Linked DNA regions of Homo sapiens. The protein of the gene in region 2 interacts with the protein of the main gene of each other region in a pairwise test. Each region holds a gene or a part of one and is shown on either strand. Other genes may lie near its edges.

Region 1 (3,821 bases), on a different chromosome or scaffold from region 2:
CATCAAAAATTCTACCTCGGATTCCTTAAATCCCTCAACTGGGGAGGAAAAAGATTATAAACGGCTAAAAGCCCTTTACCAGGGAAAATAACCACTGTATTTAAATTGCGCTTCTTCCAAAGCAACTTCTTTTGCTCCATTGATTCATTTCTCTCCATAACCCTCCCCCACATTCTTAATACATATGTGTAAAGGGATTTTCAAAAATTGAAAAGAACAGCAAAAATAAACAATAAAGACAAAACAGGCTGCTTCTTACCTACAAAAGCCTAGGGGCAAGCATGGAGATAGGTCTTCTGTCTACAGCTGGTAACAGGTGGTGGTATAGAAGTGTGCATCAAACTGACCTTTAAAGACTTCAGGAGCCAAGATCGTGTCCGACTCCCGTTTCAGCTTCAGCCTCAACCCCCGTTAAGAAGTTTTATTCAGATAGTTTATTTCCACGGAGCAATAGCGGTTTCTCTTTGCTGCCTCGGAACATGGTTACCCACAGATGGAACAGGCTGCTGTGTGAGCAATCTGCTCAGTGCAGCTGCTTCACCAAGATAAAGCAGACACAAGGTCTGCCCTGTGACAGCAGCTCAGCAGACTGGGCTTGGGCGGAAATCCTGCATCCTATCCCCTGCACTGTGCAGGGTCTTGAATTCTCAGACTGCTGCCCAAAAGCAACAGGCAATGGAACTAGAGGTCCACTCCCCAAGCAGGAAAAGGAAGGAGTTCCCCGTCAACAACACCCCTAGCCCAAAAAAAACAAAAACAAACAAACAAAAAACCACCAATGACCTAATACCACCATTTTGGATGTTGGGAAGTCAGCTCAGAACAATACTTACAGCTGTTCATGAAACCACTCTGACTCTAAATTTGCTCAGAATACAGACTAGGATGATAGGGGAGGAAGGGAGTTTCAGGCTTGTAGATAAAACACAGCTTTTTGGCACTGTTTTCTATGGTACTAGAGAAAAGGATTAAGCCATGTGAATAAAAACATCTGCTAAATTCTTTCACCACTTTAGAGTACCTGTGATCTAGGCATTGTTTTCTAGGTTTGCAAAGTTGCAACCACTCCAGAATGAGACAGGAGTGTTTATAAGCTTAAGCAACCAAGCAGTAAGTCTACAATACAGGAAGCAAAATCTGTCCAACCCTGAGATGACGTGCCCCTCCTGATGGTGGTGACTATTAACTTGGCTACCTACCCAATGAGTGCAAGGCCTCAAAACAACAAAGATGCCTATATTTTTACCAGGACACCACAGTGACTCTTAAGGGAATCTGCTTCTCAGACTGTTAATTTTGTATTATGTTTTGCTTACCTGCTGCTGGCTCAGGCCCCTGGACAGGTAAAATGATCTTCTCTGGCTCCTCCCTTCCAGCAAAACATCCTGCAAGGCTCCCCGTGGCTTCCTCAGGAGTACTGCCCATTGGTAGGCTCTCCCCAGGTGGGAAAGTACTCACTTTTTCTGTAAAAGCACTCTCTAGTCCTTTAGTGAGAGGACCCAACTCAGGGCTGGACAGTGACATGTGACAGGCCTCCCCCTCAGTAAGCAGTGCTCCAGCGGCCTTGACTTGTTCGATGACAGCATCCACTATACGGCTGGCAGCCTCCTCTATCAAGTCTGCCCCCTTAGGCAGAGGTGCGTCCTGGGCAGAGACCATGCAAGGTAGAGAGGGAGTGCTCCTTTCCCTGCCTGAAGGCGGGGCTCGCATGACTTCCCTCACACCAGCTGGGGCCCCATCATCATGGGCTGAGAGCTCCATGTCTGTGGGGAGCTCCTTGGCAACAGGCTGCAGTAGGACAGGATGTGCTTCATCGTCTATTTGGGCTTCCTCAGCGTCACCCATGGTACAGCTGTGGTCTGCTCCCTCCAGCTTCCCTTTCTCCCAATCAAGAGGTATCATCTCTGGGGTTCCAACTCCCTGTGGGTCAGTCACAGCTTTGTCCTGTAGAGCCACTGGCAAACCTAGAACGGCATTCTTCTCTTGGCTCAACAAGACGTTTGGAATCAGGATGTCTTGGGTGTTGTGTGATATATTCTCTCTTCTGGGCTCAGCCATACCTTGTAGAGCATTAACCCCTGTAACATCCACCGTCACATCTCCACTCACCTCACAGGCACTAGTTTTTCCCTGGGATTGAGTGTTCTTCACTCCAACATCCAGAGGAGAAGGCTGACTGCAGTTAAGAGCATCGGACCCATCAGACCCATCTGGCAACAGACATGGCAACAGAGCGGAGCTGTTGTGCTCTGCCCCCAAGGCTTCCTGCCTTGACTCTGTGGCCAGACTTGCTCCTGGTGGCACCAGGCTCTGGGCAGCCCCACCTTGAGTCAGCAGTGAGACTTGTGGGGCCACTTCCTTGTTATGTTCAGTTTCTGCCTTAAGAAAGGCAGAGGATGCACCCGGTGAATTACTTAGCTGAAGTGCTTTGTCCTTGGCACAGTCAGCTGAGATTGATTTTTCATGAAATTGTTGAGTATCTTGTCCAGGAGGTGGTGTTCTCTGCTCTTCCTGCAAAGTTCCTGAAGAGAGAGCATTTTCCTTAATAGAGGAACAGGTCACCGCTTTATCCTTATCTTGTTCCTGAGCTGCAGAGCTTTCTGAAACCACCAGAAGTTTTCCTTCTTCAGTCAAAACTGAATCTAAAGCCAAAGTGGCCTTACCCACACTTTGCAGGGAAGAGTCAGTGTTCCCCTTGATATTCAGAGCTTCTGGGATTGCTGGAGGGGCGGGACCCTCATGCTCTCCACCAAGTCCTGTGAGACTGGTATTCCCCATCCCGTGCTGAAGCTCTGCAGCAGTGGAGGATGTGGACAGGCCTACTGCCCTGTCTTCTAGTGGCCGCGTATCAGGCTCATTCGAATTTCCATCTGGGCCATCTCTATAATCTGTAGCTGTATGTAGTTCAGGAGTTGCTGTTCCCTTTTCTTTCTGGGAGGGGACAAAAGAAAGTGCGTCATCCTTGGTTACTGATTCACTGCCTGGACTGTTTGCCAGAGAGAAAGTACTGTCTGATATTACTGCCTGGTCTGGCACCAGTTCTTTCTCCATTTTAGGGACAACTGGATGTGGATGTGAAACCACCTCAAGCATATTTGTTAAAGGTTTATCTAGTTTCACATCTTTTCGTTGGCCTTTGTTATCCACCACTTTGAAAGGACAAAAATCCGCACGTTCCTGGGTATCCCTTACAGGGTCAGAGGTGACTGTATGAGCCTGTGGGTCTTCACAGTGGGAGGCATCGGGTGGATCTTGTGAGCTGGGTTGCCTTGCTGTGGTGCTTTCGGACTCGCTAACTATGTTATCACACAGTTTTGCAACCAAATCGCCACTAGAAGTCACTGTGTTCTGTTGACATGCAGAGTCTGCACAAAGTTTATCGTCTCCAGTTGTAGAACAAATGGGTGAGGATTTGCCCTTTTGGCTTTGAGCATGAGATGAATTTGTTTCTGAGTTCTGGTGTGGCATTACATCTTCTTCCAGCCCAAGAAGGGCTAAATCTGAGGGTGACATTGCCTCACCTATGCCTGCTGCTAAGAGAGTATAAGGTTCTAATCCATCTGAAATCTTGTCTTTTGCAGCAGCTGGAATCACCACAGAATTCTGATCTACTGGAGCATCAGCACTCTCCTCACGACTTCGTGAAGTTTCCGTTTCTGCTGTTTTTTCAGTGGAGGTTTCTTCATTACTAAATGCAAGTGAAGACTCAGCAGGTTTGTTACCATCCAGGGAACTGGCAGCAGGGGCACAGTTTGGAACACTGATTTTATCCACAGGCTTACTTGTGACGTGCACGTCAGAGGCTCCAGCTGTGCCAATAT
Region 2 (3,821 bases):
GTAGCTACTCTGGCTCTGTTTAGCTGTATGGTTTAGCTGTAGCCTCCTGTTCAAAAGAATGTTCCCTTCCTGTTTTTTGAGCAGTGCCATATCTTTTTGAGCAGTACCATCCATAGGATGATGGTGAGCAGCAAATCATTTCTGCTAGAATTCCTGCTTTTCTCTGTGTTAGAGGGTTGGTACTTTGAGACTATAGTAATAGTATTAGTAATAATTAAAATTTAAAAATCAACAGTAATACACACTAACAGTTATTGAGTCCTTATTCTGTGCCAGCCCTTTTCTGAGTGCTTTAAATATATGAACTTATATAATCCTCAAAGAACTATTGCTATTATTTCCATTACACTGTTGAGGAGCTTGAGAAACAGAAAGGATATTAACTTGCTGGCTACTAAGTACCAGAGTTGGGATTTGAAACTAGGCAGTGTGACTCCAGGAAGTCTGACTTCTCATCAGAAGTCATAGACATGGTGAAGATGCTTTCTGGGTAAGAGCAGTGTCTGAGTTGGGAGGGCCCTAAGAAGTCATCTAGTACAATGCCCTCCTTTAACAGATCAGAAAACTAAGGCCCTGAGAAGTTATCCAAATGCTAAAGGTTCCCACCTCTCTAACAGACAGGGCTATGATGAGAATGGCATTCTTTCCATTTTACTGCACTTTGATTTATTTTATTTATTTATTTTTGAGATGGAGTCTCACTCTTGTTTCTCGGGCTGGAGTGTGGTGGCACGATCTTGGCTCACTGCAACCTCCACCTCCTGGGTTCAAGCAATTGTCCTGCCTCAGCCTCCTGAGTAGCTTGGATTACAGGCACCCACCACCACAGCCGGCTAATTTTTGTACTTTTAATAGAGATGGGGTTTTGCCATGTTGGCCAGGCTGGTCTCGAACTCCGGACCTCAGGTGATCCGCCCACCTTGGCCTCCCAAAGTGCTGGGATTACAGGCGTGAACCACCACGCCTGGCCCTGGACTTTGATTTCTAATTGTGTGAAGGTCTAAGTAGGAACATGGGGTGAAAAGACAGTAATGGAAAGAATATCTCTTTTTGCTCTTAATAAATATTTTATTTAATCCCTACCTGCCCTTTAGGTGGATATAATTATATACTGTTTTTTTTTTTTTTGTTTTTTGTCTTTTTTTTTTGAGGAGGAGAGCTAGTAAGTGGTAGAACCCTTCTTTAGGCCCAGGATTCTCTAATCCCAAAGTCCATGACCTTTCACTTTACACCTCTGGGTTTGTTTATATGATGCCAGTCCTACCACTGAGTCTTCCTGAGGGGAAAGAAACTGTACAGACCAAACCTTCTCTTAGAAATTTTATTGCTGAAAGAGATCTTAGAGATTATTTTTCTAATCTTCCCTTTTTATAAATGCTGAAGGAGGAGATGTGTTGTCAAAGGATAATTAGGGAAACAAGTAAGTCAAGTGAGAGACATCTTTCACCACCTGCTGCTGCATTTCTAGTGCAGGTGAAGGAGGGGCAGTGCTCTGCCTGTGGCTGCTGCCGACAGCTCTGGCTGCTGCCCTCTCGCCATCAGGCATGCTGGAGGCAGAGCTGTTATAAATAGGCTCAGTCTCACTGTCCATGATTATCTCTTTGGCATCTTGCTTTTTTTCTGATGGAGAGTATAATCTATGGAGGGAAACTGGGTACTTTGCTGTATTTGGTACCATGAATATATGGACAAATGTTATGAAACCATATCAGTAAATAGCCTCTTTAAAAAAACCCCACAAAACTCCACTAAGTTGCTGTCTAAAAACATGTATATTTTCTCTCTAAAGGGAAAATAAAAAACCTTAACATAAATGGTATGAGACCAATATAACTGATTTTTATGTTTTAATTCTGTTTAAATTCTCAAATTTAATTCTCTTAAATTAATAAAATAAATTTAATTCTCTGAGAAGATCCCCATTGTAAATTCCATACCTTACTATTATCTGTATTCTTTCCTAGCTTAAATACAAGTTTCTGTCTACCTAGGATGGAGTGATCACCTGACACAACTTGGGCCAAGAGCAGGAGGGGAAGCAAGGACTCTCCTATGGCATCTTGACTTTCCCAAACTTTGATATTTTCATGGATGATGTTAAAATGGGTCACACATAAGGATTAATTAAAATAACATTTGTGAAAGGACTTTGAAGTGTTAAACAAATGTAAGGTATCCTTATTATCACATTCATTGTGACCATAATCATGATCATTACCGCTTGTTGCCTCTTGGCCCAAGTTGTCTGTGTGACATATTTCATGGACTGTAGTGTTTTACAGGGTTGAAATGGCATGATGCATCGTAGAAAGCTGAGAGAGAAAGACTGCACACATGAGCATGTGTTCATCACATAGTCAAGGAACTCCAAACAGGATGGCTGAAGTGAAAGGTTGTTAGGGGGTTCAGGGGGTGAGATAGACTGTTAGAGAAGTATATAAAGACAGGCCATAGAGGATTTTGTGCTATACTACATAGACGTTTGGGCTTGATTCTCTATAGATGGCGAGGAACTATTAGAGGGAGGTGGCAGTATCAGATGGTTTACATTTTAGATTATACAGACCCTCTGGTAGAGGATGTTTGGGTCAGTAAGGTGCTGTTGGGGACTTTAAACAAAATGTAGGGAGACCAGTTAGGTGACTAGGAGAGTCTTTGCTGAATTAACAAAGGAAAAATGGATGTCTTCCCCAGTGCTTCTCACACCCCACATCTTCCACACCATCCTTCCCCCTGGGCTCAGCACATTTCATATTTGGGTGTAACTTATCTTCCAGGACTTTGCCTAGGCATTTTCTCAGATGCAAATCTTTTACCTGGAGGCTGGTTCATTTTTCCTGCCAGTTGCTAGAGGATGATGCTCTTTCTGCCTTAGTATTCACTGATCTCATAGCAATGTCATTGTATTAATTACTCTAGGAATGGTGCTTTGCATGGATATTGAAGGCTTTTGAGCAATGTATCCTTCTGGGTTAGTGGCGAATATAGATATCATTGGTGGCTGTATTTCCCCTCAGCTTGGGAAAAGGAAATGCTAGTGTTTTCCTGGGCACTGTTAGAAATTACAGCCCATTTTGGTCAGGTGGGAATATTGACTCACATGGATGGATAGATGTCCTTTTTGTTCTCAGATGAATATTGAAGCTCTTCGGGAGAATCTTTATTTTCAGTCCAAAGAGAACCTTTCTGTGACATTGGAAGTCATCTTGGAGCGTATGGAGGACTTTACTGATTCTGCCTACACCAGCCATGAGCACAGAGAACGCATCTTGGAACTGTCAACTCAGGCGAGAATGGAACTGCAGCAGTTAATTTCTGTGTGGATTCAAGCTGTAAGAACTTTTTTTAAAATCAAAGTAAATCTTATATAATGGCTTTCCCATAAAGTTTTGCAAGATATGGAAGTTACATAATCACCAGGAGTATGAATTTGTTCCAGAATGGGACAGGATATCTCATCCCTTCTTTCCCTCCTAGTTGGCCAAAATATCCTTCCCATCTAGCACTTACAATACTTGACATTTATTTCCAGGCCTGTTGACTCTCATTCTAGCCAGTCTCAATTATATGCCTCTGTCACTATCACTAGTTCACACTGTTGTCCCTACTCTTCCACCAAACTCACCTCTGGAAAATTCCTCCCCAAAATACTTCTTCAGAGTGAAGAACAGAGGAGTAGACCCCCTCCTAGAGGTTCTTGGGACCTGAGCCTGACTGCTGGAGCCATTCACATGTACACAATTCTTACCTCTGAGGACAGCTGATTTACAGAGACAATGATTTAGAAAACTTATTGGGGTGTAGATTCAATGAAAACAAGG

The links.
Region 1: the proteins of CTNNAL1 (region 2) and AKAP13 interact in a two-hybrid assay, tested with the Homo sapiens proteins (one study listed by BioGRID).

Annotation. Positions count from the first base shown.
Region 1 is NC_000015.10:85,579,603-85,583,423, reverse strand, and holds part of AKAP13 (A-kinase anchor protein 13), read right to left. Parts: coding exon 1,317-3,821; intron 1-1,316. UniProt on the Homo sapiens protein: Scaffold protein that plays an important role in assembling signaling complexes downstream of several types of G protein-coupled receptors.
Region 2 is NC_000009.12:108,978,792-108,982,612, reverse strand, and holds part of CTNNAL1 (alpha-catulin), read left to right. Parts: intron 1-3,131; coding exon 3,132-3,332; intron 3,333-3,821. UniProt on the Homo sapiens protein: May modulate the Rho pathway signaling by providing a scaffold for the Lbc Rho guanine nucleotide exchange factor (ARHGEF1).